4 separate regions of the Homo sapiens genome follow, and all the other regions are linked to region 1. Evidence: fine-mapped expression QTL. A gene starts in region 1. Each other region holds a variant in brackets. All regions are shown on one strand. Distances are from middle to middle.

The links. PIP is the estimated chance that this variant, and not a neighbour inherited with it, causes the effect.
Region 2: its variant is the best candidate, but not a certain one, in a credible set for the expression of TMEM200A in fibroblasts (GTEx, PIP 0.50).
Region 3: its variant is the best candidate, but not a certain one, in a credible set for the expression of TMEM200A in whole blood (INTERVAL, PIP 0.79).
Region 4: its variant is the best candidate, but not a certain one, in a credible set for the expression of TMEM200A in whole blood (TOPMed, PIP 0.75).

What each region holds. Positions count from the first base shown.
Region 1 is chr6:130,362,551-130,370,388 of GRCh38, forward strand. It overlaps TMEM200A (transmembrane protein 200A), which reads left to right and starts at 3,467. Exons shown (of 3, transcript NM_001258277.2): 1 at 3,467-3,974. It also overlaps a transcript of SAMD3 not described here. RefSeq lists a silencer at 2,901-3,000.
Region 2 is chr6:130,599,026-130,606,863 of GRCh38, forward strand. No RefSeq gene overlaps it. Among named protein-coding and RNA genes, the nearest start is that of SMLR1, 220 kb to the right of the region's middle. RefSeq lists an enhancer at 2,935-4,134. The variant C/T (reference allele first, on the strand shown) is at 3,550.
Region 3 is chr6:130,297,755-130,305,592 of GRCh38, forward strand. It overlaps a transcript of SAMD3 not described here. Among named protein-coding and RNA genes, the nearest start is that of TMEM200A, 64 kb to the right of the region's middle. The variant C/T (reference allele first, on the strand shown) is at 3,710.
Region 4 is chr6:130,383,306-130,391,143 of GRCh38, forward strand. TMEM200A (transmembrane protein 200A) reads left to right here. Exons shown (of 3, transcript NM_001258277.2): 2 at 1,868-1,931. Among named protein-coding and RNA genes, the nearest start is that of TMEM200A, 21 kb to the left of the region's middle. The variant G/A (reference allele first, on the strand shown) is at 3,453.

The sequences.
Region 1 (7,838 bases):
GTTCAGAGGAAAGAACTGGGCTTTGGAAGGGAGAGAGTATGGCTCCTTTCACATTTCTAAATGGTACGCTGCCAGTGCCCCTCAGGCAAAAAGAATCTAATCAGGTTTATTATCTAACAAGGAGGTATCTGATTATCTAATATAGATGATTCTGTATCTAATACAGAATTTATAAATATTTAAGTAGTCGTATCAGCCTCAACATTATAAAACATCAATCTGAGAGGGGTTAGCACTGTTACTTGCACATTTAATGAACAGAAAAGAAATTAGCAACATCTTTCTGCTGTGAAATCCACTGAACTATTAGTCAATTGCACATAATGAGAAAGAAAACATGAAAAGTATGACAAAGTGCTATTCAAAATCACGGTGAAATAAAAATGACCTTAAAATTTTATTTTTAAATATATTTCCTCTACCTTTTTCTTTATCCTATATTCCTCCCCCTATTTACTTATTTCAAGAATAAAGTCAGAAAGTTCATTTTCTTTATTGACTTTACCCTCTACTTTGAAAAAGCACCCATGGCTGCTAGCAGAAATACTACAGGGGTTTTAAGACTATCAATCTATTTCACATCAAGAACAAAGCCATTCAGATAAAAATCTAGCAAACAATTCTATTTTTTCCCATTGAAGACATTTTTATTTTCTGTTTAAGGATCCCTTCTCAGGCCTAAAAATGCTATGGGCTACATTTAAGGCAAGAGGAAATGAATATAATCCCACACAAATTTTCTAATAGCCCTTCTCTTAGCCTTGTTACATGACCTCTTAAGAATACTCATTCTTTTTCATTTCAACGTATGTTTCCAAAATTAATTCATTAAATATGAATTGCCATCCATCAGACTTTTATAATACTATACCAAGAGTGAAAATGTTGATCTTCATATTTTGACCTTTTTTCATGTTAATTCTTGATTCCAGAGGAAGAGCCTTTTTTTGATGATGTTAATTGCATTAAAACAAGTTTGATGTGAGTGTATATATGTTCAATCACATATGTATTGAGGATCTGTGACTTGTAGGAAGAATATTATACACATCATTTCATTCAATTTTCACAACACTTTGAAATAGATACTTTGTTCCTACTTAAGGGATGGGAGAAATGAGGTACCAAGTCCCTCTGTTAGTAGGTGGTGGAGCTTGGATTACAGGACACTTGGATTACTCTCTTTCTACTATGCACTCTTATAAGATGGGCTTGTTCTAGTGGAAATTTACATATCTCATATAGACACAGCAAAAAATATTATGTGTGAAGTGCAGTGCTACTTGATGGCGAGAAGTAGAAAATAGTTGACTTCTATCCATTATTTCCAAAGCCGATGTGTAGCTGAATTCAAAATCCATTACTGGCATGGTATATTCACTGTCAGATGGGAAGATATTGGCCATTAGTAAGGATAAATAATTTACCTGAGATTCCCTTGAGCACTCAAGGTCAGGGAAAATTTATAACTAATGTGTTGAGAGTTGCTCGGACTACTGAATTGCAAATAATCCTCTATTTACAGGCCATTTTACCCGCCTCTTCTGAGACTAATAGTAATTATTTTAAAAAGAAATCTAAATAATTCCCTTTTGGTGATTTTACTTAGTCTATCTTTCTTCTTTTTTGGTAAATCACTAAAATCTGAGTTCATAGTTCATAAATGAGGAAGCATCAATATCTGTGGCCTTAAGAATGTGCTTATTCCTTTTTTCATGGCTCTCATCAGTCTCTTTTTGAGGACGGCTCAGTCACTCAATGCTTAAAATGGCTAGATGACCATTTTAAACGTTTTACCATGGGTCTTAGAGAGGATGTCACCTCAAATGATCTATGGACTATGAGCCTATTCCTATTACTCACTCCTTAGATAGTGAGGGGAACCAGGAGGTGTTTCCTCTCAGGAGCTTTACAGACAATGTGGCTTCAGGGTGTTTCTTTATAAAATGTAGAGGTAACTAGGAAGAGGGCCCAATGGAAGCACACTCCTTTGATATGGTGCTTGACAAACACATTTAAGAAAACCTAAGAGAATTGAGCAGGTGGCTGTGGGCTAGAATACTAGATGCAGGTGGGGTAAAAATAAAACCACAGATGGTTTATAAAGGTGACTCATCCTTCCCCCACCGTAACTCCTTTAGTTTTCTTTTCTTTCTTTTTATAAAACATTTTGATTGTGACATCTCCACTAAAAGTGCCCAATCTCTAAATTCTTCTAGTCAAGGCAAGAAGGTTATACCACAGGAAATCCATTTCTACAGTCTCTTCTCATTGCCATATCTGATTTTAAAGACTTTTTTTTCTAATGTGGAAATTTTTGCATGGCTCTCCCCCACCCCCCAAACACGGATTTTATACCCCCCCAGAAGCAAACTTTTCTTGAAAACGAGATAAACAGATCACACGCCGAAATAAACAAATACACTGCACCAGAATATCATACTTGCCTTCTATCACTTAAAACAGATCCAGGGGACACAAGCATAGCACACACCTTGTGCATGCGGCTGGCCTGCACAGGGGGTGGTTGGAATATCCGGTAATTAGTTTTACATGAAACTTTACTTACGGAATTGGCCTGCATATATACAGTCATCACCGTCTTTGCCGAATTAGAGACGACATATTTTACTCTGTGAACAGGCCAGTCTCCACTCACTGGATGTTTGGGGTCAAGGAGGAGTAACCTGAACCTCTCGTTGGCTTTGATGTTTGGAGTCGAACATCCGCACTGCTCATCGAAGACCCCCGTGCTTCAGTTCCCTCTGTCTTCCATTTCCCCCGCCCATGGTTCTCGCCCCCCCAAGCCGTTCTCCGGAACCCCTTGCCGGGCCGGCGGGAAGCGTGGACGGAGCGGGCCTTGGCCGCGTCTTTTCCGGCCAGGTTTGGTTTAGCTCGCGCAGCGCCCGCGCAGCCCGCCAGGGGGACCCCGGCCCGCCGGGCGGCATCTGAGGAGAAAGCGTCCGAGGGGCGTGGAGCCAGGGTCCTGCGGTGCCTGCTCCGGGAATACTGCGAGTCGGCTGGAGCTCCCCAGCCGCTCCGGAGAACTGGGGGAGCCGGGTCCCTGGCTCGGTAACCGGTGGTCCCGCGGTAGCTAGAGGCGGGCCCCACGGGTGGGTGTGTCCGTTTCCGCACGCCAGCCTTCCAGCCCGGGAAGAGCGCCTGCAAGCGGGTACTTTGTTCCCAAAGATGGGTTTTGTCTGCGGGTGATTTGGGCTCTCGAAGTGCAACTTTGTGGCCGGGACGCGGATCGGCCGGCCTGGGCTCCTGCAGAGCAGATCCTGTCTGCGTCCTCCAGGAGGAGTGGGTGGCAGGACTGGGGTTTCCCACAGGTTTTGGGGCGGCGGCGAGATTGGCACGGTCCGGGGTCGCAGGCGCGCAGCCACGCCCCTGGAAGTCCGCCCCGGCCCCCGCCCCCAACCCGCCTCTTCGGGGCTTTATGGCGTGAGGTTTGGGGCTGGGATCCATCTGGAGCCGAGCAGAAAACTTTTCCCCTCCCGTTCCCGGTCCCTTTTGTCTTTCTTGGACGCGGTGGCGGCGCCGCCTGAGCGGCGACTCCCTCTCCCCTGCCCGGCTTGCTGCGCCCGGTGCCCTCCGAGGGCAGGCGCGCCTGGACTCTGCGCCCGGATGGCGGCGGCCCTCTGTGAGCACCGGCAGCGGCGCATCCCCTGCCCCGAGGCCTCCGGTGCCCCCCCGGCGCGGGCATAGGGGCGCCCCCACCCTCCGTCCGCTTGCACCCCTTGCCACCCGCCCCCTCGCCTGACTCATCCGCCCGCGGTGGCCGCCCGAGCCCTGGGATGGGGAGGGAGACCGCGGCTGCCCGCGGCGGCCGAGATTCCCGCTGACGCCCCCGACCCTGCCGCCTTCTTCGTCCGCCTCCAGAGGCGCCCGACGTCCCGACAGCTCCTGGAGTGAGACCAGGACTGAGAACAGGGAGAGGCGACCCGACCCCCAGGGCCCGGTGCTCAGGACAGGTGAGGGGAAGGAAAGGGTGCTGACGGGAGTGGGGAGGTGGGTGGGCGGCCACCGCAGCCGAAACCGGGCACTTCTTCAGCCCTCTGCCCTCCCCTCCCCTCCGCTACAGCCTCCAGAGTTAGGTAAACGCTGTCTCTCCTAAAGTTTGGGAAATAAACCAAGTCCGCCATCAGGTCCAGACTCCCCAGTCCCGGGAGCGCGAGAGAAGCCGTGCGGGGCAGCCTCCAAGAACCCGGAGTACTGGAGCGCCTGGCTGGGTTTCTCCAAGCAACACCCTCCTTTGTCTCGGTTCCTGAGAGTCAGCATTCTCTGTAATGTCCACAGCGTTAATTCATGATTGAGCAAAGTATGGTCAGGGTTTCGTAAAGCAGTATCTGGATGGGGTAGAATCTACACAGGCAAAATGGAGAGGCAAAGCAATTATTTGCAAAATTCAGCACTACTCTTCTCCCTGTAGTCTTGTCTGTAAGAGAAAGGACTGAGGGCTTCTAAGATTTGCTTCATTAATCATTCTTTTGCTATAAATTGTTCCAGCCAACACTTCACATTGTGTAGGCGCAAGCTCTCTGTGTGTATTTACCGCTGTTTGATTTAGAAAAATGTGTGTGTGTTTGTGTGTTTTTTTTAAATAACAATTCATTGTTCAGTACCGGGCATTGGTAATGTCGGAGAGAAAGGCAGATGCAGCACATACAGGTAATTGACTAATTGGAATCAGCCTTAGTCCGGTCCACCTTAGTCTGGTGTATTTAAAAACTAAATATGTTGGACTAAAGTGTCTCTTGCCTTGTCTCTTCTGAATACCTTCAGAAGTAGTTATGGACAACTGCATAGAAAACATTTCAAGAATCGATGATTATTCTTGTTTATAAGAAAGAATATTGAACTCTCGGTTTTGCAATCAAACCAAGTTTGAGGCACACTTTCTATAGTGCTGTATGCATAAATATTACCAGAGCTTGTGAAAGCTATTTACTTTGTCGTTTCTTGAATTATGGAACACTTATAAAAAGACCTTCAATTTGTTATTTGGCTACTGATACTAGAAAGCATTATCATTTTGTGAAAAGTAGACTAAATTTTGAAACTTTTTAAACCTTACTTTATTTTCCCACTGTTTACCTACACAGAAGTATGTAGTTGTAGTTTCATTCTTTATAAACACCTCAAGTGAAGAATAGAAGTCCTTCTAAACAGAAAATAATGCTTCCATTAAGTGGAAACTATAGTTAAATGCTTTGACAATTTAACAGTATGATTTTTTTACTGTAAAAAACACACACTGAGGTGTTTAGAATGATTTTTTAACCAAGTCCTACTAGATAGCTCATAATTATGAGATAATGTAACTATAATTTGTAACCCTGGTTATAATTAGCTTTGTATCTGGGCTGGGAAAGCCTTCATTAGAGTTGTATGGAAAGTCCCTGTAGGTAAATTCCAGGCAGTTAGCACAGAAAGGCTTCACCTGTTGCCTTTGAGGCAGGTCTAGGTAAATGCTGTAGTGTCTGAAGACACCCGTAATCAGAAGGGATTCTTCAGGAAAGATCATTGTAAAGAGGGATGGCTGTACTTGTTATTTTAACTTAGTGGAATTTTTAGTGAAGCTTTTGAATACTACAGGAGTTAGATTGTTATATTTGGACTTGTGTAGCTTCAGAATTTTGACAATAGCTCATTGGCCAGAAAAGGATAACTACTGACATATAGAGGGAACGGATCTGAACTGATTGGTTAAATGCTGTACTTCTCATGATGACTCTTAGCATAAAGGAAAGAAATTCATATTTAGCTTAGGAAGATAGATAAGAACAAAGATAAAAGCAAATGTCAACTTTTACATTTCTTAAGCAAAATTAGTAGAGGATAAAAAATAAGCCCTTGTAGTCATACACGTTACTTATCAAATAGAGGGTAGAATTTAAAAGAGGAAAAATAACTTGTGCAGCAACAGAAATCCAAACCTGCAATGAGATGGACCTCATTTTATTAAGGAATGTATATCTGATTTACAGTTTTATCAAGCAGATCCACTTGTTCCTGGACTTACGCTATGTTTTGTCTGCTGAGATCTGATATGTGCTCAAACACTCAGAAAACATCAGTGAGTGCTTATTGTGGTGTCATGCTAGCTACCCTTCCAGGCCTTTTCTATGGGCTTATAGGCTGATGGAGAGGGGACTGATAAATGTACCACAGATCACCTGGCAGCTGAGGTGGTCTGAGAGCAGCAGGGGACCAGTGCAGACTGGGAAGCAGCATAGTGGGTTGCAGAGGGACCTGGATGGGGAGTTGTCATCTTGACTGAGTCACTAATTAGGTGGCTGTGGGTAAGTGGCTAAGTTCCTCCACCTTTCTGCTCCTTGGTGCCCTTATCTGCAGAATGAGGGCTTTGGACTGACGATCTTTATGGTCTCTCTTTAAAATGCTGCAAGGCAAATTCTGGCAGAATTAAAGAGAGACAGAAGTCAGTGTGTGTGTGTAGGAGGGTGGTTTGTAGGGTTTTGGTTGAAGGAAGCCAGGCTGGAGGGTCTTGCTAGTTGTATTGAATGGGAAATGGCAAAGAGAAGTAAAAGATGTCTGGCCTGGGACATCTGACCTAACATTGATTATGTGAATTGAAAATACATAATAAAATAATAAAAATACCAGCTTTCACTTAGTACTGGGTGGTTTTCCATGAATTTTCACAAATGATGCAATAGATTTTTGTAACAACCCTCGGAAGTAATTAGAGCAGAAAGGTGATGAAGCTGGGACTAATACTGCAAAGCACATCTGCACCAGTATGCGCCACTGCCTTTCTGCAGGATTTGTAGAGATAGGAGAAGCTAAAGCTCACTTTGGAAACCCTGAGTAAACAGGAGAGAGACATAAGGTTAGGGTCAGATTTTAGGTGAGGTTGAATTTCTGCGTAAGAATTTAGGTTACATTCTGGAACACAGAAGTCTCCAATTACGAGCTCAAGACTTCCTGAAATGCCTTGAATTCTGATTATTGATGTTTAATCTTACTGCTCCTGTTCTGTGCCCACTCCTCCTCTAAGGTCCCCCTTTCCCCAGCAGGAATTCTGGGGCTTTGACTATCACAGAGTAATTGATATGACTCTTCCAAGAGCTTTTAGTGATGCTGGAAAAAGGAAATCCATGCATTTCATATAAAGGCGAGGATTCTGGGGCCACTGTATCATTAATTGATAGGATGTGTTCTGCAAGTTGTGCTTTGGAAACTTTGTCACCAGAGGTGAAATTCCACAGAAGGCATAGAAATCTAGAAAGGTGTAAGATGAGTGTCTGTACATTCCTTCCTGTAGAGCCCTAATCACTCTGCTCTGAGCATGAAGTGCACCAAGGGGGGACAAGTCTCTGCTTACCACCCAACTGTGTGTTCACCACCCCACTTTGTGTTCATGTAGAAGGGAGTTACTCAGGATTCATTTGCTTGCATGTGTGAATATTTAACTAGGTAAAGCAAAAAAGGACTTACTGGCTCATTGGACCAGAAAGTCCAAAGGTGGTCCTTGCTTCAATCATGGCTGGAACTCAGAGACTTACACAACTTTGTCGAGGTTCTTTCTCTCTCTCCCCATTTCTCAGTCCCACTTCTCTCTGGGTCAGCTGTATTCTGAGGCACTCTTTCTGGATATGGAGAAAGATGACTGTGGGTATTTCTAAACCTACATTCCTGGGCTTTTCATCTATGAGAAAAAGAGGTCCTTTCTCTTCCAGGTCCCATTTTTATAAATCTCCTTGAAGGGCTCTGATTGGCCCTGCTCAGTGGTAATTGAATTGGTCTCTGTGTCTAGCAGAGAGTGCTACTCTGATTGTATTGGACTAAATCATGTGCCCAACCCTGTGTATATG
Region 2 (7,838 bases), 240 kb after region 1:
AGAGAAAGAGAGAGAGAGAGAAGACAAAACTCAATTCATTGTCTTTCCCCACTTAGCTAATTATGTAAGTCAAAAATTAATTGGTATACTGTATATGTGAACTTTCAAAGGAGTTAAGAAATACAACTCTTTATTATTGAGCAGCAGCTATTCCTTATGAAAATGTCCTTTAATCTAGTTGGTTGTTATGTCCTATCTGCCGAGATGCACCACCCAATACCACAGTTTTGCTGTGGGATCTATGTAATCAGTCCTCCTGGTTGTCAAAGCATCATCTCTTGAGATTTATTCCAGTAATCTAAGAAGAAACATGAAAGTCCTGTTTGTAGCACATAATTGAATATTTTAAAGTTCCTTTTGGATTTCCTTTTCATATTTGCTTGCTGATTAACTGAAATCCATTTTCAGGTCATAAATACAAAACTAAGAGCAAAAATCAGAGAGAGTAAGGAAAAGGTGTCTACTGTGAATCCATAGAAGTGTTGATTACATATATACCTTATAAAACAAGGAAACTCAATTTTTACCTTGTACATGGTTTCAATTTATTGTTGTCTACAAAAATCTCCAACCCCTGATTTTGGTCAATAATGTAAATTTATTTCATGTTCTTTAATTACTAAATATTTCAGGTCTACAATGTATATGTAGATATATAATACTTGAGAGAGAGAAGAGAACTATTAGTTATAATAAATGTCATTACTTTGTGTTTTCTTCTCAGTGATTCAACATCAGTGGTTATCAAAGTGTGGTCCCTGAACCCAAAATAGTATCACCAGCAACTTTGTTAGAAATACAAATTGTGGGCCCAGGCCCAAACTTACAGAACCAGAAACTCGGGGGGTAGGGCCCAGCATTCTGTTTAACAACAAATTCTGATTCTGATGAATGCTTCAGCTTAAGAGCCACCATTCTACACCTTGCAGATGACTTCCAAATCGACATCTGTTTCCAAATGCCTAATGAACACAGACTTAGAGATATAGCACAATCCAAATATCTCAAAATTCAAGTTTGTCATCTCCTTGATAAAACCAGTTTCCCTTCCCTGTACTCCCTAATACTCCCTAATACTACCTGTACTCCTTAGCTAATCAGAGCTGTCTAATTACCAAGTGTGTTAGTTTTCTATTGATTGTTGCATTAAAAATTCCCCAAACTCAGCTCACATAGTTTCTGAGAGTTGGAATTCTGCGAACAGCTTAGCTGAGTGGTTCAGGCTCAGGATCTCCTGTGAGGTTGTGGTGGTCAAGATGTCAGCTGGGGCCGGGTGCGGTGGCTCACACCTGTAATCCCAGCATTTTGGGAGGCCAAGGTGGGCAGATCACGAGGTCAGGAGATCAAGACCACGGTGAAACCCCATCTCTACTAAAAATACAAAAAAAAAAAAATTAGCCCGGTGCAGTGGCGGGCACCTGTAGTCCCAGCTACTCGGGAGGCTGAGGCAGGAGAATGGCATGAACCCGGGAGGTGGAGCTTGCAGTGAGCTGAGATCGCCCCACTGCACTCCAGCCTGGGTGACAGAGCGAGGCTCCGTCTCAAAAAAAAAAAAAAAAGAGAGAAAAGAAAAGAAAAAAAGATGTCAGCTGGGGCCATAGTTATATAAAGACTTCTTTGGGCTAGAGAAATGACTTTCAAGCTCACTCACATGGGTATTGTCAAGAGGCCCCAGTTCCTTACCACGTGTGCCTACCATAGGGCTAATTACTAGAAGGCAGCCACTTCCCCCAAGCAAATATTCAAGAATAAGCAACCAAGGAAAAAGGGCACACTGATTTTATAACCTAATATCAAAAACCACACACCATCACTTCTGCCATTATTGGTCAATGAGGCCAATCCTGGTACAATGTGGGAGGGGATGACATGAGCATGAGACTACCAGGAGGTGGGGATCATTGGGAGTCATCTTGGAAGCGTTAACCGTGCCCAGACAAGTATTACCAGGAGATTTCCAACTCTCTTACTCTCACTGTTATATACAACCCATAGCCAAGACTCATCAATTATTCAGTATCTCCCATGCCTGTCCCCTTCATTGTAGTACTTTTCCTGACTCACTCTTCTATCTCACTATCTTGCCTCCAATCTCTATACTATTCCAACATTCCTTCTCACAGCTGGGTAACATTCCTAAAATACAAGCCAGATTTGCCACAACAGACCTTCAAAACCTCTCTTGCTTCCTATCAAGTAAGTGATTCTTACTTAGAATGGCATTTACAGCTTCCTCTGACCTAAGTATAATCTGTCTTCCCAGGACCATTTCCTGCTATAACTCTTCATTCTTCTCTCTCCAGGCCAATGATTGGATATCTTCCCCAACTCTTTGTTTCTAGCAAAGCTCTTTTGATATTCTATTTATCCAGAACAACCTCTTTCTACTCCAAAGCCAAGATCAGATGCTGTCTTTACTGATATTCCAGTCAGAATGAATTATTATCATCCACGGCATGTTATACCTCCAATACAGAATTAGTTGCAGCTGTAGTTAGTTGTTTAAGAGTCCCTATTTCACCTACAGATTTTAATCTCCCCAGGGTTAGGGGTTTTCAGTTATCTTTATTATCAATACAATATTAGGGTTTGTTGAATTAAAATATATAATTTCAATAGGCCCTTTCATGTGAGAGATGATTCATACTATTCTCAACAATGCAAAGGAAAGGTATTTAAGTTTGAAATAATCATGACTATTCCCCTAAAGAGTAGCCCTTCCTACAAAGTTTCTAGTTGGAAAAGTAGCCTACAATATCCAGGCTATATTTTCATTTGAAAGACTTTTCCTACAGACAGATGGGACAGTCTCCTTTTACAATGGAACCTAGAAATGTGCATGGAGATGGAAGTGGTGAAGGCTCGTAAGTGTGGCTTATAAACGTGTTAAAATCTAGGGTGATGGGAGCCCCTAAAGGGTTTTTACAAGGGAAGTACCTGATCAGATTTTTATTTGGAGGAATTGCCTCTGAGGGAATTACAGGCTACCTGTCTGAATTGGACGGGGACAGAAGTCAAACCAACGGGTGATGGTGGTACGCTTGTCTACAGTGAAGGCAGAAAAGATGGAAAGAAGAGAGTTGCTCAGGGGGTAGAACTGGCCAGACATGATGATTGATTGTGAGGGAGAGAGCTGAAGGTCTGGAATGATGCCCCGGTGAGGGTTTTGTGCCTGTGAATCTGGACCTAGGATCAGGACTCAGTGGGGAAAAACACCTTAGAGCATGAACTTTGCACAACATGGTACCAGCATCATTGTCATGTATGGAAGACAGCCCATTCTGGAGAGAGGCCACAGGAGCTATCAGGAAATTACGCTGACCTTTTTTCACAAATGAATAGGCTCAAAATTAGATTCTTACACCGACTGACTAAAGGGAAAGCTATTAAACTGTCAGACAAGAGCTCTCCCTGGTTTTTATGAGTTACCATGATTCATCGTTCCAGGGGAAGGAGCTGAGCAAGAATCATTTCCGTGGCTTCTCAGGAGTTCCTGAAAGATCACACGCTACAGCATGAAAGCGGAAAGACTGATTCATAATGATAGCA[C/T]CAAATATCAAATCAAACATCTAAATACAAAGTGTGCATGCTTGATATGTGATTATCAGGCATGTGATGAGGTTTTACTAAATCAACTTGATTGTTCTGGTTAGTATTATGAACGCCCTTTCATCTGAGGGTAGGGATGATAGAGATACAGAAGATAGCCACATATAACACAAAATCTTTCTAACTAAACATAGTTGACACCAATTATGACAGTCTCACATATAACATGCTTCACGTGATTAAGGGTTCTTATATTACATGGTACATTTGAGTACTGGTGGGGAAATGGCCAATAAAATACAGCATATCTTCCAGGGAGTTTTTTAAACATTTGCATTTGGATACCCTGAGAGGAAGCAAGTATCTTTCAGCCCACAGCCACAGATATGCTTAATTCTCTCACCGATAGTATTGCCTGGCTTCTGAGTTGGGAAATCTGAAGGAGAACAACCAAGAATGCTGAAATGGGGCAGGGCGCGGTGGCTCACGACTATAATCCCAGCACTTTGGAGGCCGAGCCAGGCAGATTACCTGAGGTCAACATGGTGAAACCCTGTCTCTACTAAAAATACAAAAATTAGCCAGGCATGGTGTCACACACCTGTAATCCCAGCTACTCGGCAGGCTGAGGCAGGAGAATTGCTTGAACCTGGGAGGCAGAGGTTGCAGTGAGACGAGATTGCGCCATTGCACTCCAGCCTGGGGGAAAAGAGCGAGACTCCGTCTCAAAAACAAAAAACAGAAGCAAAAAGAGTGCTAAAATGGGTATCCTTGAGAACAATTAATACAAGTCACTGAGCTAATTTGAAAGGAGACAGAAACACAGGAGGGTCGCCCTGCAGCTTAGAGTATCTCCCTGCCCAGGATATGCATCATCCCTCTGAAGCCATGCTGGCCCTAACCCTTATTATTCCCCTTAATAGCTCTTAAGGTACAATCCCTAAAAAGTCTTAGGAGGCCAGGCCCTGTGTGTGTGGATCCTGCTCCCACTTCCAGATTCTTGTCCCATCACTCACTTACCTTTCAGCAATCTGACCTCCATCCCCACAGAGCATCGCAGGTCATCGCAGCAGAGCCCTGTGTGGCATCCCACCCAGCTCCCCTTTCAAGCCCAAGGCACTCATTTCCCCCAGCTGCTAGGAATTTAAGCTGCTTAGCTCACACCTGAGTCCCACTTTGGGAATTGCCCTCACCTGGTTCTCCTAAGGTCATGCCCCCACCTCGGGACAGAAGATTGGTCCATAAGTAGCCTCAGAGGCCTGAATTTTAGGCAGCTCCAAAGGACACTCCAACTCCAGAGCCTCCTCCTTTCCTTACAGGTGTTATTCGTGAAAGCACACCCGATAAACACCTGGCCACAAATCTCTGTTTCAGAGTCTGTTTCCAGGGAGCCCACACCAGGACACAAGCCCTCCTCATGCCTGCCCCAAAGCCTTTGTTTCTGTTCTTCCCTCTGTCTGAAACATTCTTCAGCCATCCTCCTTTCCCTCTTTCCCCAAGTGTCTCACCTACTCCTCTTTCTTAGTTCTGGGGTCACTTTTCCAAGAATGTCTTTCCTGAAAGTCCAGTCTAATTCAGGTCCCACTGTTCTATGCTTTCGTGGAAACCAGTTCCCTTTCTTTATAGGGCTTCCATTTGCAATTATGCAGACATTAATTTGCATGTCTGCCTTACCTACTCCAGTAAACTCCATGAGAGAAGGAGCTCTGTTCCTTCTCACATTGGTGTTCCAGCATACAGCAATGAATCTGGCTCAAGTTTGGAATTCAACGAATAGACATTAAATTGTCTGGTGGATTAATTGATTGATTGGTGGAGTGAATGGCCTCTGCCATCAAAGTCCTTTCTTTTTCTGATTCATCTTCCTGATAACAGGGAGCCCCATTTTCTGGTGACCATTCCTCACTGTGAGGTTTTTAAAGTGCAACCATGTGATAAGCTGTAATTATTGTCTTTACCAAGATCATCTTAAGCATTGTATGTTTCATCTGTCAAATGCTAATCATCTAAGAATGTTGAGGCTGAAAACAAGAGAAATGTATGCATCCTCAGCACTGTACTTTCATGGTAGGAATTCCAAATAGCTAATGGACAATAACAATAAAATAGCTCAGTATTAAAATCAGGATCACTACTTCACCAAAGTCTTTTAAAGTGTTTGTAGTAAAGTTGTGGGAGATTGAGCTCTAAAATGCAGAGGAAAAGAGCTCTTTTTACTTCTACTTTCAGAGACTTTTGTTCTAGAAATTATTTTTAGTGTCGGTAAATTATGCTAATTAAGACAACTAAACTAAAAAAGTATATTTAGAACCAAGAGAACATATTTTACTAATGGTTTATGATTTCCCAAGCAGATTTAAAATTAGATTTATGTTATTTTAAGATATTTTTGTTTATCCAGCCAAATGTCACCCTAAAGGTCAAGCTGGCCAGAGAAAAGGGAGAAATTACTCTCCAACCAGCATTTTCTAAGCACATTCACTGAGCAAGGAATTCAAAGCCAAGGTCATTGGTGTCAGGAGAGATATAGTCTCGGAGGTTGCTGAATGATTCTAAAATCTTGTTAAGGACTCTGAAAAAGAGAAGAGAAAAGCCAGATCTTGACAGGCCGGAGCTTGCCTGGTGCTGTCAGTACTGTCCTGGCACTCAGAGCTAGGTTGTGGTGCTGTCCTGCTGAACACAATTTCACAGAACACCCACATCAGTCAAGTCCCCTGTATGACTTTGATAGATCATGACAAAATCAAGACACTTCCAAAAGATGTCTGAACTTGTACAAAAACAAGAACATTGTCCAAACCCCCCAAAATATTAAACATCCCCTACCCTAGCTGATATGAAAGCTGCTTCTTTACCAATTACAGCTTTAGCCTCACTTCATTCCTCCTGCCATATAGATAAGATTTATAAAAGATACCCAGTCATAGAATTGCTTCCCAACAGCATCCAATCTGGAGCAAAACCTACTTCCTTGAATCTTCTCAAAAATTGTCTAACACAAGCCCAGATCATGTGGGTCCTTTCTACCACGTTCTTATTGAGTCACCCCACAGCTCTCCATGGTATATGGTCTTCCTCATTGGAACAAGTCAATAAACTCCATTTGGTTTAGCTATGGTTGTACTGCAGGTGGTCTTTCATTGGGGGCCATAGACAACTCTCAACAGAGAAAGAAGTAACATTTAGAGAAGATATGGTTACAGTCAAATTGCCTTTATTAAATATTTAAACTTGAAATATACACACTTATTTCCACACCTTCACTCTAAAGCCAAACCAATAATTTCATAGTGTAGTAAACATTTGGGGCAAAACAAATTATGAATCAAGTCCTTCCTGTATCTCAGATAGGAAACGATAAATGATGGAAAGTCAGGAAATATAATAAATAGGGAAACAAAAGGACTATAACCTTTTAAGTAGCAATTGTCAAGACCATTAAGTAGAGTCGAGTCCTGGTGAAGCACAGTTGTCATGGGGAATAGGAGAAGAGTGGCCTCCGAGGAACAAGGTGAGCCCTGAGTATTAGGGCCAAAGCTCAGGCATAGAACTATGCAGGCGATATGGTTTTGCAAGGCCACAGGCATCGTGCTTTCCTGCATATGCCTTTACCTAAACAGTCTGTTTTCTTCTCTATTGTAGAATATGTTATTCACTTACTTAAATTTCATCTGATTTAGTTCAATGGTATATGCGGACTTTTTTTTTGGTCTTTACATATCTATAAAGGCACTGTTATCCAAGTCTCAGGTTTAAGTCTTAAGTTTTACCCAAAAAGGTTTAGAATAATCTAAGGAAAGTATTCCTCTGTGATATATTTTTAAGCAAACAGACAGAGGGAAATCTGATTTATCCAATAATTAAAGGAATAATACTAAGTCTATGTATCTTTTTTATAATGGTATACTTAATCTGAGAACATCAGAGCATTATAACAAAGACATTCCATGCTACAGTCAGAGAAACTCACAGTCTAAGAGGTGCCAACCCTAACTAAACAGGCACAGTGAGGATAGTGTTGCTCCAACTGATAGTTCCAAGTAGTAGCTTCTTGTTTTTTAAGTTTATTTTAATTTTGATTTTTTACAAATGTCAAGTAAAATGTTACATAAAAACATGTATTGGGCCAGGCGCAGTGGCTCATACCTGTAATCCCAGCACGTTGGGAGGCGAAGACGGGCAGATCACAAGGTCAGGAGATCGAGACCATCCTGGCCAACGTGGTGAAACCCCATCTCTACTGAAAAAATACAAAAAAATTAGCTGGGTGTGGTGGCGCATGCCTGTAG
Region 3 (7,838 bases), 65 kb before region 1:
ATAGGCTAGGCAAAGCAGAAGAAAGCATTTCAGAGCTTGAACGCTGGTCTTTTGAATTCACCCAGTCAGACAAAAATCAAGAAAACAGAATTTTAAAAAATGATCAAAGCCTTAGAGAAATATAGGATTATGTAAAGTGACCAAATTTACTGACATTGGCATTCCTGAGAAAAAAGAAAAAGCAAGCAACTTGGAAAACATACTTGAGGAAAAAAATTCAGGAAAATTTCCCTAATCTTGCTAGAGAAGTCAACATCCAGATATAAGAAATTCAGAGAACACCTGCAAGACACTTCACCATATGACCATTCCTGAGGTACAGTCATCAGACTATCCAAGGTCAATGTGAAGGGGAAAAATCTTAAAGGCAACTAGAGAAAAGGGTCAAAATTACCTATAAAGGAAATCCCATCAGACTAACAGTAGACTTCTCAGCAGAAACATTACAAACCAAAAGAGATTGGGGGCCTAGTTTTAGCCTTCTTAAAGAAAAGAAAATGCTGCCAAGAATTTCATATCCTGCCAAACAAGCTTCATAAACGAAGGAGAAGTAAAGTCATTCCCAGAGAAGCAAATGCTACGGGAATTTGTCATTACCAGATCAGTCTTAAAAAAATACTCAGAAGAGATCTGCACATGGAAACAAAAGAATGACGCTTGCTACCATAAAAGCACACATAAGTACACAGATCATATAAGGCAATTATATAATTGAGACTACACTATTTATCACTTAGCAACAGTATGACAGGAACAAACCTCACATATCGATATTAACCTCTGGGACATAACGAAAGCAGTATTAAGAGAAAAGTTTATAGCACTAAATGCCGACATCACAAAGAGAGATCTCAAATTAACAACCTAACATTGCACCTAAAGGAACTAGATAAACAAAAAGCTTAAATGCTTCACTTAAAAGACACAGAGTGGCACATTGGGCAGAAATAAGACCCAAGCTTCCACCGCCTTCAAGAGACCTATCTTATGTGTAAAAACATTCATAGGCTCAAAATAAAGGGATGGAGAAAGATCAATCACACAAATGGAAAACAAAAAACAGCAGAGGTTACTATTTTTATATCAGATAAAACAGACTTTAAAGCAACAACAGTAAGAAAAGAGACAGAAGGGCATTATTTAATGATAAAGGGTTCAATTCAACACTGCGTATGCACTGAACATCAGAGTACCCACATTTATAAAACAAATTCTACTAGACCTAAAGAGAAAGATAGACAGTGATCCAATAACAGTGGGTGACTTCAACACTCCACTGACAACACTAGACAGATCACTGTGGCAGAAAACTAACAAAGAAACTCTGGACTTAAATTGGACTCTTGACCAAATGGACCTAATAGACATCTACAGAATATTCCACCCCACAATCACATAATATAATTTTTCTAATCTGTGCTATGAAAAATTCTCTAAAATTGACCATACACTTGGTATTACAGAGAATCTCAGTACATTTTTAAAAACTGAAATCATATCATATCAAGCATCTTCTCAGACCACAGTGAAGTAAAATTATAAATCAATACCAAGAAGAACACTCAAAACAACAGATGTACGTGGAAACTAAACAATTTGCTTCTGAATGACTTTTGGGTAAAGAACAAAATTAACGCAGAAATATAAAAATATTTTGAAACAAATGAGAATGGAGACACAACACACCAAAATCTCTGGGACATAATGAAAGCAGTATTAAGAGAAAAGTTTATAGCACTAAATGCCGACATCACAAAGAGATCTCAAATTAACAACCTAATGTTGCACCTAAAGGAACTAGATAAACAAAAACAAAGCAAACACAAAGCTAACAGAAGAAAAGCAATAACAAAGATTATAGCAAAACTAGATGAAATTGAGGCCAAAAAACCAGACAAAGGATCAACAAAACAAGAAGTTGGTTTTTTGAAAGGATAAACAAAATTGATAGATTGTCCTAGATTAACCAAGAAAACAAGATTGTGCAAATAACCACATTCAGAAGTGACAGAGGTAGCACTAGCATTACAACTGATACCACAAAAATACAAAAGATCCTCAGAGACTACTAGGAACATCTCTGTGCACACACTAGAATATCTATAGAAAACGAATAATTTTCTGGAAACATGAAACCTCCCAAGAGTGAACCAGGAAGAAATTGAAATGCTGAACAGACCAATAATTAATTGTGAAATTGAATCAGTAATAAAAAATCTACCAAACAATAAAAGCCCTGGACCAGATGCATTTAGAGCCAAATTCTACCAGATGTTCAAAGAAGAACTGGTACTAATCTTACTGAAAGTATTGCAAAAAATCAAGTCAGACGTATTCTTCTCTAACTCATTCTGTAAAGCCAGTATCATCCTGATACCAAAATCTGGCAAGGACAAAACAAAAAGGAAACTACAAGCCAATATCCTTGATAAACACAAACACAAAAATCCTCAGCAAACTACTAGCAAACCAAATCCAGCAGTGCATCAAAAAGATAATTTATCACAATCAAGAGGGTTTTATTCCTGGGATGCAAGGATGTTTCAACATATGCAAATCAATAAATGTGATTCATCACATAAACAAAATTAAAAACCAAAATTATATGATCATCTCAATAGACAGAAAAAGCATTTGATAAAAAAATCCAATGTCTCTTCATGATAAAAACCCTCAACAAACTAGGCATTAACAAACTAGGCACTGAAGGAACATATCTCAAAATAATAAGAGCCATTTATTGCAAACCCACAGCTGACATGATATTCAATGGGCAAAAGCTTGAAGCAAGCATTCCCCCTAAGAACTGGCACAAAACATGGATGCCCACTTGTACCACTCCTATTCAACATAGTACTGAAAGTTCTAGCTACAGAATTCAGAAAAAATAAAGAAATAAAAGGCATCCACATAGGAAAAGAGAAAGTCAAATTATCTCTGTTCTCTGATGACATGATTCTATACCTAGAAAATCCTAAGGATTTCTCTGAAAGACTCCTAGACATGATAAATGAATTCAGCAAAACTTCAGGATACAAAATCAACATACAAATATCAGTAGCATTTCTTTATTATTATTATTATACTTTAAGTTCTAGGGTACCTGTGCACAACATGCAGGTTTGTTACGTAGGTATACATGTCCCATGTTGGTTTGCTGCACCCATCAACTCGTCATTTACATTAGGTATTTCACCTAATGCTATCCCTCCCTCAGCCCCCCACCTCCAACCAGCCCCGGTGTCTGATGTTCCCCGCCCTGTGTCCACGTGTTCTCACTGTTCAACTCCCACCTATGAGTGAGAACATGCGGCGTTTGGTTTTCTGTCCTTGTGATAATTTGCTGAGAATGATGGTTTCCAGCTTCATCCATGTCCCTGCAAAGGACACAAACTCATTCTTTTTTATGGCTGCGTAGTATTTCATGGTGTATATGTGCCACATTTTCTTAATCCAGTCTATCATTAATGCATATTTGGGTTGGTTCTAAGTCTTTGCTATTAAATACCAGTAGCATTTCTATACATCCAGGATGTTCAAGCTGAAAACCAAATTGAGAACTCAATCCCATTTACAATAGCCAAACAAAAAAGAAAATACTTAGGAATACACTAAACCAAGAAGGCGAAAGATCTTTACAAGGAGAACTGCATAACACTGATGAGTGAGATCACCGATGGCGCAAACAAATGGAAAAGTATCCCATCCC[C/T]ATGAACAAGAAGAATCAATATCATTAAAATGACCATACTGCCCAAAGCAATCCATAAATTCAATGCTATTCCTATCAAATTACCAATGCCATTTTTTCACAGAATTAGAAAAAACAATTCTAAAATTCATGTGAAACCCCCAAAGAGCCCAAATAGCCAAAGCAATCCTCAGCAAAAAGAACAAATCTGGAGGCATCACGTTGCCTGAGTTTAAACTATACCATATGGCTATGGTAACCAAAACAGCATTGTAATAGTGAAAAACAAACAAACAAACAAAAACCAGACACATAGATCAGTGGAACAGAATAGAAAACCCAGAAATAAAGCCACACCTACAACCAACTGGTCTTTGACAAAGTTGACAAAAATAAACAATGGAGGAAGGACATCTTATTCAATAAATGGTCTGAGAAAACTGAGTATCCATACACAGAAGAATGAAACTGGACCCCCACCTCTCACCATATAAAAAATTAACTCAAGAGGAATTAAATACTTAAATTTATGACCTCAAAATATGAAAATTCAGGAAAAACTCTTGTGGACATTGGCCTAGACAAAGAATTTATGACTAAGACCTGAATAGCAAAGGCAACAAAACCAAAAATAGACAAATGAGATGTAATTAAACTGAAGAGCTTCTGCACAGCAAACAATAAACAAACAAACACACAAACCAGAAACAATCAATAGAATAAACAGACAACCTCCAGAATGAGAAAAGTATGCATGCAACAAAGGACTAATATCCAGAATCTATATGGAACTTAAACAAATAGCCCATTAAAAAGCAGGCAAAGGACATGAACAAAGATTTCTGAAAAGAAGATATACAAGAGGCCAACAAACATAGGAAAAAATGCTCATCAACACTAATCATCAGAGAAATGCAAATTAAAACCATAATGAGATACCATCTCACACCAGTCAAAATAGCTATTATTAAAAAGTCAAAAATAACAGATATTGGCAAAGATATGAAGAAAAGAGAACACTTACACACTGTTGGTGAGAAAGTGAAGTAGTTCAACCCTTATGGAAAACAGTATTGAGATTTCTCAAAGAACTAAAAATAGAACTACCATTTGACCCAGCAATCCCACTGCTGAGTATCTGTCCAAAGGAAAATAAATTGTTTTATCAAAAAGACACCTGCACTTGTATGTTTATCTCAGCAGTATTCACAATTGCAAAGACATGGAATCAACCTAAGTGACCATCAGTGGTGGGTTCGACAAGGAAAATGTGGTACATATGCACCATGGAATACTATGCAGCCATAAAAAAGAATGAAATAATATTTTTTTGCAGTAACATAGATGCAGCCAGAGGCCTAAGTGAACTAATGCACAAACAGAAAATCAAGTACCACAAGTTACCACTTATAAGTAAGAGCTAAACAATGGGTACATGTGAACATAAAGATGGAAACAATAGATACCAGAGGCTTTAAAATTTGAGGGGGCAAGGGTTGAAAAACTGCCTGTTGGGTACTATGTTCGCTGTTTGGGTGGCGAGTTAACTACAAGCCCAAACCTCAGCATTATGCAATACACCCATGTAACAAACTGCACATGTATCCCCTGAATCTATAATACAATAATACTCAGTACCACATATTACTGTTCCTAGAGGTGATCGACTGTGTGCCTGCCCTGGGGGACTCTACTGAACATTGCTCTCTTCGGTACCTTTCCTGCCTCTATTGTTCAGGGGCAGCATGTCTCCTGTAAGTAGGGGTCCTCTTCACTTTGTCTTTCATCTCCAGAATCACAAATCACAATCTTTTCTGTTTCATATCACAGTACAGGAGAAAAAAATAGATACCCTCACACCACATATGGCCAATGACATCCAAATTATTCTTCTATGTCTGATCTCTCTGTTGAGGTCTGAACTAAAGCAGCTAGTGTCTATTGTAATGGAGCCAATATCTCCATTTAGGTACTTAATAGGCAACTTAAACTTAACATGGCCAAAAGGTTAACTCTATATTCCTCCTCAATCTGAACCTTTTCCTCTCCCAGGCCTTTCCATGAATAGAAATAAATGTATTTATTTATAGAAACTCATTTACCCAGTTGATTAAGCCAAAAAGTTTGGAGTCAAAATCAAATTTTTTCCTTTTCTTTAAAATCCACATACCATTCATCAGTGAGTTATGTTGGCCACACATGCAAAAACACATCTGGAATCCATCTGCTTCCTTTTTCTCCACTGCTCTACCACCCCAGTCCAAAATTCCATCACCATTCACCTAGCTTGCCTCTTAACTCCTGTCCCAGTTTTCACTATTGCACCTATATGCACTTTATTGGCCTGGTAATCTTTTAAAACAATATATAAAATAATGTCACCTCCATTCTGAATATATTCTACATTTTAATTCTTTATTTTGTATGTGTGTTGCAAGTCTATCTTCCAGTTTTTTTCGTGTTTTTATTATGTTTTGATTAACATAAGGTTTTAATTTTAAAGTTTTCGAATTTATAAATATTTTCCTTTAAGTTTGTCATTTTTGTTTTTTCTTTAATAAATTCTAACTTGAGTGTATAAACATTTATCTACATTTTCTCCTATATGTTTAAATGTTTTCCCTTTCAAATGTAAGTTTTAAATTTCCTGGGACTGATTTTTATGTATTATATGAGGTACATATCCAGCTTTTTTCTTACACGGTTAAACAATGGTTTTGTCAACATTGTTGAACAGTCCTAATTTTCCCATTGATCTGAAGTGCCACCCAGGCTGAAGTGCAGTGATGTGATCTCGGCTTACTGCAACCTCCGCCTCTTGGGTTCAAGCGATTCTCCTGCCTCAGCCTCCTGAGTAGCTGGGACTACAGACACATGCCACCATACCCAGCTAATTTTTGTATTTTTAGTAGAGACAGGGTTTCACCATGTTGGCCAGGCTGGTCTCGAACTCCTGACATCAGGTGATTCACCCGCCTCGGCCTCCCAAAGTGCTGGGTGAAGTGCCAAATTTGTTCATAAATCAAGTTTCCATAAATGTATAGATTAGTTGTTGGGCTTCTCTCTTTAGTTCCACTGAACACATTCTCTATGTCTATGCTAATATTACACTTTCATCTTAGTTGCTAGAGCTTTATGACTTTTTACTGAAGTTAAAACAAATCTCTCCACTTACTCTTTTGCTTTAGGAGAGTTTTGGCTCTTTTCCGGACTCTTGGAATTCAGTGCATAGAATCATCTTGCTAAGTTCCATGAAAAAAAATTATGCCGAAATTTTAATTTTATCCAAACTTTAAGTCGAGATTATAATTGATATTTAAAAAACTATATTGAGTCTTTCTAAAAAGATGGCGTATCACTCTACTTATTTAGGTATTTTAAGATATCTTTCAATAAACTTTTGTAATTTTTCTACAAAGTGCTTACATATTTTAATGGTTTTTACTTAGTTGCTACTATAAACACTAAAATTACATTTTCTTCCTTTTTTTTTTTTTTTTTTTTTTTTTTGAGACAGAGTCTCACTCTGCTGCCCAGGCTGGAGTGCAGTGGTGCAATCTTGGCTCACTGTAGCCTCTGTCTCCTGTGTTCAAGTGATTGTCATGCCTCAGCCTTTCAAGTAGCTGGGACCACACATGTGCATCAGCATGCCCTGCTAACTTTCTGTATTTTTAGTAGAGATGGGGTTTCACCATGTTGCGCAGGCTGGTCTTGAACTCCTGAGCTCAGGCAATCCGCCCACCTCAGCCTCCCAAAGTGTAAAATTACATTTTCTATTTGTTGCTGGTATATAGAAATGAAGTAGATTTATTTACATTGGTTTTATTTCTAGCAACACTGCTAAACTCTTATATATCCTAATATTTTTCTATATATTCTGTGGGTTTTATGTGTAAACTTTCAACTGTATCATCTAAAGAATTATAGTATTTGTTCTCAATTTTAAATACTTAATTCTTTGACTTATTTTTTCCTTATCTTACTACCCTGTCTATAATCTCCAGAACAATGTTGAACAGAAATTGTGATAGGAATAATAATTTTTCCTGATTCTAAAGAGAATGTTTATATTCTTTTAGAAAAATGATAGCAATAAGGCCTTTGTAGATTCCCTTTTTCATGTTATGAACATTCAATTCTACCAGTTAGA
Region 4 (7,838 bases), 21 kb after region 1:
ACTGTGAGGTGAGCAGCAAGTTCCAACATGCTGGCATTCCACAACAGCCAGATGGGAAGTATTTATGACAGGGGATAATCTGCTCCCATTCTTGGCCTTATTCACTTTGATGTTTTGAAACGTTCATGATGCCGTCTTAATAAAGTTGAAGTTTGAAAACTTGAATGTCTGGCGATGGCAAATAATCTGGTTCCCATAGCCATCTTCACTCAGCTGTGTATCCAGACATAGCTTTCTGGATCTCTGAAAATACTGATCAATAAATTATGAGCTGTTGTGATTTAAAACGCTAGTAAGTATTTTTAGTTTCCTTTTAATTTTTAGTGTTTTAACAAATCACAGGTGGTTGGCATCAAGGTAAAAATGAATATGAAGACATGGTGAATACTGCCTTCATTATGAGTATAAAAGATTATTTTTTCCTTTTTAAAATGTTTTGAATAATTCTGACAAGTATTAAAACTTTGGAGGCCATGGGACCCATAGAACCTCGTAGGAATAATTTATTCAAATTATATGAGAAAAGAAGAGGCAGGGAGCGGTGGTTCATGCCTGTAATCCCAGCACTTTGGGAGGCTGAGACGGGGGGGATCCCTTGAGGTCAGAAGTTTGAGACCAGCCTGGCCAACATGGTGAAACCCCATCTTTACTAAAAATACAAAAAATTAGCCAGGTGTGGTGGTGCACACCTGTGGTCCCAACTACTTGGGTGGCTGAGGCACGAGAATCGCCTGAACCCAGGAAATGGAGGTTGCAGTAAGCTGAGATGCCAACACTGCACTCCAGCCTGAGTGACAAAGTGAGACTCTGTCTAAAAAAGAAAAGAGAGAAAAGAAGAAATCACTTGTTAAGTACTTTCTCAACGTTGTCAGTTGTTGTTAGTCTTTTATAAGAAATAAGCTTACCGTTTGTGAATGCTTTTTGGTAGTTTATTATAAGCATTTATCATGTTACTGAAATTTTTGTAAGCATGCCTTTGTAAAGGCTGTATAATGTTCTGTTACCTGTGTTTTTATTTTTGTTTTATTTATTTATTTAAAGGTTTGCCCAGGCCAGAAAGCGGTAGCATGATCATAGCTCACTGTACCCTCAAATACTTGTGCTCAAGTAATCCTCCTGTCTCAGCCTCCCGAGTAGGTGAGACTGCAAGTGTATGCCATCACACCCAGTGAATTTTTTAATGTTTTGTAGAGATGGGGTCTTGCTATGTTGCCAAGGCTGGTCTTGAACTCCTGACCTCAAGGGATCCTCCTACCTTGGCCTTCCAAAGTGCTGCAATTATAGGTGTGATCCATCCTGCCTGGCCAGAAAATTATTGTTTTAATTAATAAAAAAGGAAATGTTAATTCTTGTGACACTTCAAACTTTCCTTTGTAGTTTCCTTGATTCAGAAAGGAATAGCATGTTTCTGATATGTATCATTAGATATTTTGTATTTTCTATCAAGCTTAACCTTTGAAGTGATGATCAAATCACATTACAATGAACTGGTCAATGGGTAGGTAACTCTCCTATAAAATTTTCTGACAGAATTTCTTTTCATTTTCTTTAGAAGTTTGAGGATGTTAGACAGTTTGGGATTGTTTTTGCTTTTCTTCTAATACACAAAAATTTACATTTGGAGTACATTTATTATCTTTTTGCAAATGGATTTATCTCTATCATAGCATCTCATCTGGTGGCAGAAAGAAACACATGACCATTCAGTCATTTCTAATATATTCTTTTGGATATAAATGTGGAAGAAAGTAGTCAGACAGAAAAAAGTAGAAAGAGGATTTGATTTGTTGACATTATGCTTCATGCATGTAAATTTGCGACATTGTCAGTTATGGAGCTCACATAATAAAAATTCTTAATTTCTTAGCACACAGAGCCGCTGAAAACGACTGAAGAGAGCAAGGGATTTCCTGGGACATCTGGCTCTGGAGGTGAGCGACAGCAGGGAATGACGTCAGGGACCTGGGAGACTGATCACCTGGATGGTGACTTTTTATGATGATTTTTTTGTAATGAGTTTATTCTTCCAGTGAGCTAACAGAGTTTATTAGTGGGACTTTGTCAGGCAATTATTTCCTTAGCTTGGTTAAATAAACCAGATGTCTTATTTGGACATTTCAAAGTTCCTTGCAATAAGCATTTTTAAATTAAGATAGAGATAGGTCTCTGCTCTGGTGAAACACTCACTGTAAAAATAATTGTATAGGTCATTTTATAGAGTAGGCTGTTTTAGCAAGACAGCTCCTCATTCCTCTCATTCTTTTCTCTCCACTCAAATCCCCAAGAGAAAAGGCCCTTAATTAGAAGCTCATTGACTACAGAAAAAAATAATTTTCTTTGCTCTTCTGTAATTTCAAAATTACATTTGTTCTGCTTGGAATAAAAGGAGGTTTATACCTTGTAACCTGTAATCTTTCATGCTGTTTTTGTTTTTGAAAACTTCTAAGAGTCTGAGCATTAACCATTTCATGATGCTATGTAATCTCATATTATTTTACATAAACTACAGAAATAATTTGCAGATGAATTTTTAGGGATCACCTTTTGCCCTTTGGCAAAAGGTGCCTTGAAATGCAAAATGAACAGTTGAGAAAACGATCCTTAAGTTGAAGAAGAAAATCCCATGTTTCTGAAATAATGTTGATATCCTGAAGAAAATTGTTTTGTATATTGGTAAGGGGACTCTTAAACTTCAATTATCTAGAATTTTTCTCTATTCTTTATTTCACTTGTGTGTATGTATCTAGGTGTGTAACTTGGTTTATAAAACAACTAACATTCAGTTTTGGGAGAAAATAATCTATTGTATTGAGAGAGCTTTTTGGCTTTCATTCTCTGAGTAATCACAGCCCCTCTAAGATACCTCTAAGATAAATGATCTCCAATACAGTAAATCCAGGAGCTTGAACAGGGACCAACCTCATTCACTGAAGCTCAGAGGAAGGGTCGGGGTATGTGGGAATGTTTTCTGTGTGCAGCACTTGAGTGTTTCAAAGTCTTCTTTGCTAAAAGGGGTAGCCACTGAGTTTGCTTAGAACGGGGCTGAAAACTGCTGTGGACCAAAATTCTGCTTGTCAGAGCCAACTGTGATTGCTCTAAAGATGCACCTTTTATAAGCTACTCTTAGAGTCACTAAAGGAAACTATGTTATTGTCAGCCAAAGACTGGCACCTGGGAATTGAAATTGATGATCTTTTTAGACCTTTAGAGAGAACCTAGGGAAGAGATTAGGAAAGTTTACCCTCTTCATCTTAGATGTCTGGTTTTTCCTTCCACATGGATGCAAAATTGTTCCAGTCCTTACCCTTTTCAAACATCAACTTCTAGTGCAGAAAGGAAACCATAGATCTTTAAAAGATACTCTAGGTGATTAGCATTAAGATTTTGTTTTCACCAAAAAATTCCGACAAACAAACCAAAAAACCCCCAAGAAATTGTAAGAATGTCGTTTC[G/A]ACAGATAGGAGCTTGGAGCATTTTCAAATAAAACAAATTTGCCTTGCATTAACTTACTGTTACTTTAAAACTATGCTCAAAGGCATATTCCTTTTTCTTCGCCAGCATCATTTGGAAGCCAGATCTTTTTATAAGGCACTCCTGCATTACTCCCAGGCACTCTTTCATGGAGAACCTATTTCTAAACCTGAAACCGTCCAGTTATGGTGGAGGCAGTCACACAGTTCATTCATCAGTAATCCTTTAATGCTGTTGAAGTGAGTGGGCAGAAGAGGGCCTTTAATTATCAATGCTAAGAGGACTTGATCTTTAAGATTCTTTCTAATTGTGCCATTTTGTGACAATATGTGTTTCTTATATGAAGGTGGTAGTGCAAGACACTGAGATGCCTAAGAGGAAAGGATGTTTTTTACCTGTGTTTATAGTAAAAATAATATAACAGCATTAAAGTCTATTGCAAAATCTCCTATAATTTCTTTGTAGCAGAATGGATATTTTTATTTGGATAGAGTTGTGTTTGTTTGTTTGTTTTTTGACGGACTCTCGCTCTGTCACCCAGGCTGGAGTGCAATGGCGTGATCTCGGCTGACTGCAACATCTGCCTCCCAGATTCAAGTGATTCTCCCACCTCAGCCTCCTGAGTAGCTGGGATTACAGGCACCCTCCATCATGCACGGCTAATTTTTGAATTTTTAGTTGAGATGGGGTTTCACCATGTTGGCCAGGCTGGTCTCGAACTCCTGATCTTAGGTGATCCGCCTGCCTCGGCCTCCCAAAGTGCTGGGATTACAGGCATGAGTCACCACACCCAGTCTGGATAGAGTTCTTAAAAGGGTAAACAACTCTTTTCTTTTCTGTTTGAATGCAATCATGTGGACTTGGCCACATGGCTTCTTAAGTCTTGTTTGCATTTGCTTAAGCCAACAGCACTCAAATATGTTAAGGGAATTCTAGATTGAAATTGTGACTTAGTTTCCACACTCTTAATTATGTTTCCCCAAAACAGTTATGCATGAGGCTCTTTGGCAACTAGACTTGAGAATATTTAGGTTTAAAATTTCTTACTTGAGTGGTTTAGAGCCCTATCCAACTTCTGGTGTCTTTTCTCTTAAAAAGCTTTTAAAATCCTGTTTGCCTTTTTCAAGGTAGGAAAGAATACAAAAGTGTAAGGGTAGGTATTCCTAAGTCTTAGAGAATTGATTTGCGGTTAGTTTCTGATTCTCAAAATAATTTTCCTTTCACAGGTGGAAGTTTTCATGATGGGAGTTGAAGGTAGCATAGCAAGTGCCGCTCAGGAAAGGGGAGAATAACAGTTTAAAACTTAGTAAGTTTATTATACTCTGTACTAGTGGAGATCCCTTGGAGATTCCTGCATCGGTTTTAGAAATTAACCAAAAAGAAGGAAGTGAAGGAGTTGAAGTTCTAGGCAAGCAATAAGGCTTGATTAAGAAGTTGGAAAATGTGAAAGGAACTAGGATTATTCTGGAGAAGGGAAGGCTTATAATAATGGCTTTCAGATGCTGTAGGACTCAGATATCTACTTTCCTAGTGAATAACCAATTAAAAAGAAAATAAACTACAACATTAGGATATTAGCTGTGTAGATGTTTCCCAAAGTGATAACCCCCTGGAATGAATTATCAAGACAGGAGTTATATCTGCCCTCAATAAGGAACATGAGGCATAGCCTCAGGGTGTGACAATTCATTGCTTAGATAAGTTCTGTTTCTGTAGATGTTAAATGTGGATTCTCGCTTGTACATGTTTTCATTCATGCATAGTATTTCACAATCTAAATTCATATATCCTTATTTTTTTATATTTCTAATAAGATGATTGGTTCTTTTGCTGAGTGGCATAAGTAGATACTCATATTTCTCAATCTTGTCATCAGAAATGATGGCTATTTGTTTTTATATTTGTAAATATATAGTTGATGTTTACATTAAATAGTTCATTACTCAATTGTAAATACTAAAATTGGCAAGAATGAAAAAATAAAACATTAGAATATCCTTACAGAAAGTATCATTGCCCCAGTTTGTGGGAATTGCATCAACCACTGCAGATAAGTGTGTTTATAAAATCACCTAACTCATGACATTTGGCACATCAGCAAGTAGCAATAATTTTAACACTAATTAGTATATTTAAGAGAAATTACTTACAAAACCTAAATCATGTTTTGAACAATGATTTCTTGAATAGATATGAGATAAAATAAATTTTATAGAAAATATAAAATACATATAATATGAAAGTAGCACTACGGTCTAGCTCTATTATCTTTAGATAAGTCAAAGATATTGTCTTTGACTCTCAACAAAGTAGAACTGTAAAATACAGTTTTAGATTCGAACTATAGATTGTTAGATTTGGATAGACTAGAAGATCTTGTAATGTAGTCCCCTGATTTTACAGATGAGCAAATGAAGATTTAGTATTGATAAAAATACTAAATGTTTTTGGTGAAATGACCACAGCTTTTTACCCAGTCACACAACAAGATATAAGTGGAAGCAGAAGCAGTTATGGGCTCTCCTGATTTCCAGCCCTGGGCACTCCCTCCTGTAGTGCACTGAACAGAAGGTCAAGTGTAGATTTTGAAACGGGCAGTCTCTTGACACTGTGTCACGTCTTCCCTCAACTCACAACTCTATATCCTACGTAAAGAACAATGTGAGAGAAAGAAGAGGTTATAAGCTTGAAAGTGATAAAGTTAATATGTATTCTAGGACCCTCTACCAAAATATTTTGAATAGGAGGAAAGCAATAATATAGCTTGTTAGAATTTTGAGAAATTCTAACAATAATATAGCTTGTTAGAATTAATGAGAAATCATTAATTTTAGATACATAATATCACAGGCCAGATTTTAACACCAATAATAACAATAATATAGCTTGTTAGAATTTTGAGAAATCATTAATTTTAGATACATAATATCACAGGCCAGATTTTAACACCAGCAGTGGGTTCAGAGAGATCCACAGAACTTCAGATTTTCTCAGAAATTTCAAAACTACTCAGTAAAATTTCCAGCCCAGTTGTGCTAACTAAGGGACTCAGATTGAGATTCCCTGGTTTCATTTTATTACATGGGCTTCCATTGTTAAAGTTCTAGGATCCCCATCCAGTTCTTTGTTAATATATTTTACTTTATGAGAACAATTAGCCGGGTAAAAATTGCTCATACTGATAACGAAGAGTTACTAATAAAAGTTATTTTGCTTACAGGTTCATTAGGCACTTGTCGAGAATGGCCAGAAACGTGTTTTGGTTTCTTAGATGTTCTGTTTAACCATGAATTGCTGTAAATGCTTATCAGTTTTCAAAAAAAGTATAAAAAATGAAATGCCCAACAACCCCCAAATTATTTTTGAATATAATTTAACTGTTTTTTCACTTACTAAATCTCAGGATCTGATAGATATGATTATAAGTCATACAGTTTTGTTTAATTAATCTTTGTGGTTTGAATGTTGGAGAAATAAGATCTCATTATACCTCTGTGTCATCTATTATAGTTTTAACCTAGAAGCATTCCGAAGTTGTAAAACCATAGCTGTAGAGCAAATTCAAATGTGTTGTGTTTTGGTGAAATGACCATGGCTTTTTACCATATCATCTGAATGTAACACACGTTGTGTATCAGAGCAGCCCTATGTGGGCTACAGTATGTCATTTAATCTCAGTGAGCTCTTTCTGACTTTACAGAGTGAAACTAGTACTGCCTACTTGATAGGACTGCTGAGGATTAAATGATAAAGTATGTTAAAAAGCTTGACAAACCTTAGTATTCTTTATACCCTTAAAGGTACAAATCCTGTCTTTTTTATGACTATTTCTCCTCCATAGCATAGAGGGGAATGTGTTGCATATAATAGTATTTCTTACTTAATACTGATAATGGAGTGAGACTATGAAAAGCAAATACTGCATAGCAAGGAGGAGATATCTGCTAGAATCAGATATTGACATATTAGCTTGGCAAATTGCTCCTTCTAAAGTCAGCTTCCATGTTGGTGAGGCTGCTTTGAATCTCCCAGGCACCTTTGAGTTTTTGTTCACTGCTCTGCTCTCTGTCAGCTCACCTTCATCACAATAGGGTTTCTCAACCTCTACACTATTGACAGTTTGGACTGAATAACTTTTATGCATTGTAGGGTGTTTAGCTCCATCTGTAACCTCTACCTACTGTGTGCTAGTAGTGCTCTACCCCAAGTTGTAGCAAAAAATTGTCTCCAGACATTGCCTAGTGTCCTCTGCGGGACAAAAATGCCTCGGAATGAGCACCACTGCATACATACAGCAGTCACTGCTTTGTGATGTAAATATCAGTTTACCTGTGCCCCTTCTCACCAGACTGCCAGCCCCTAGAGGG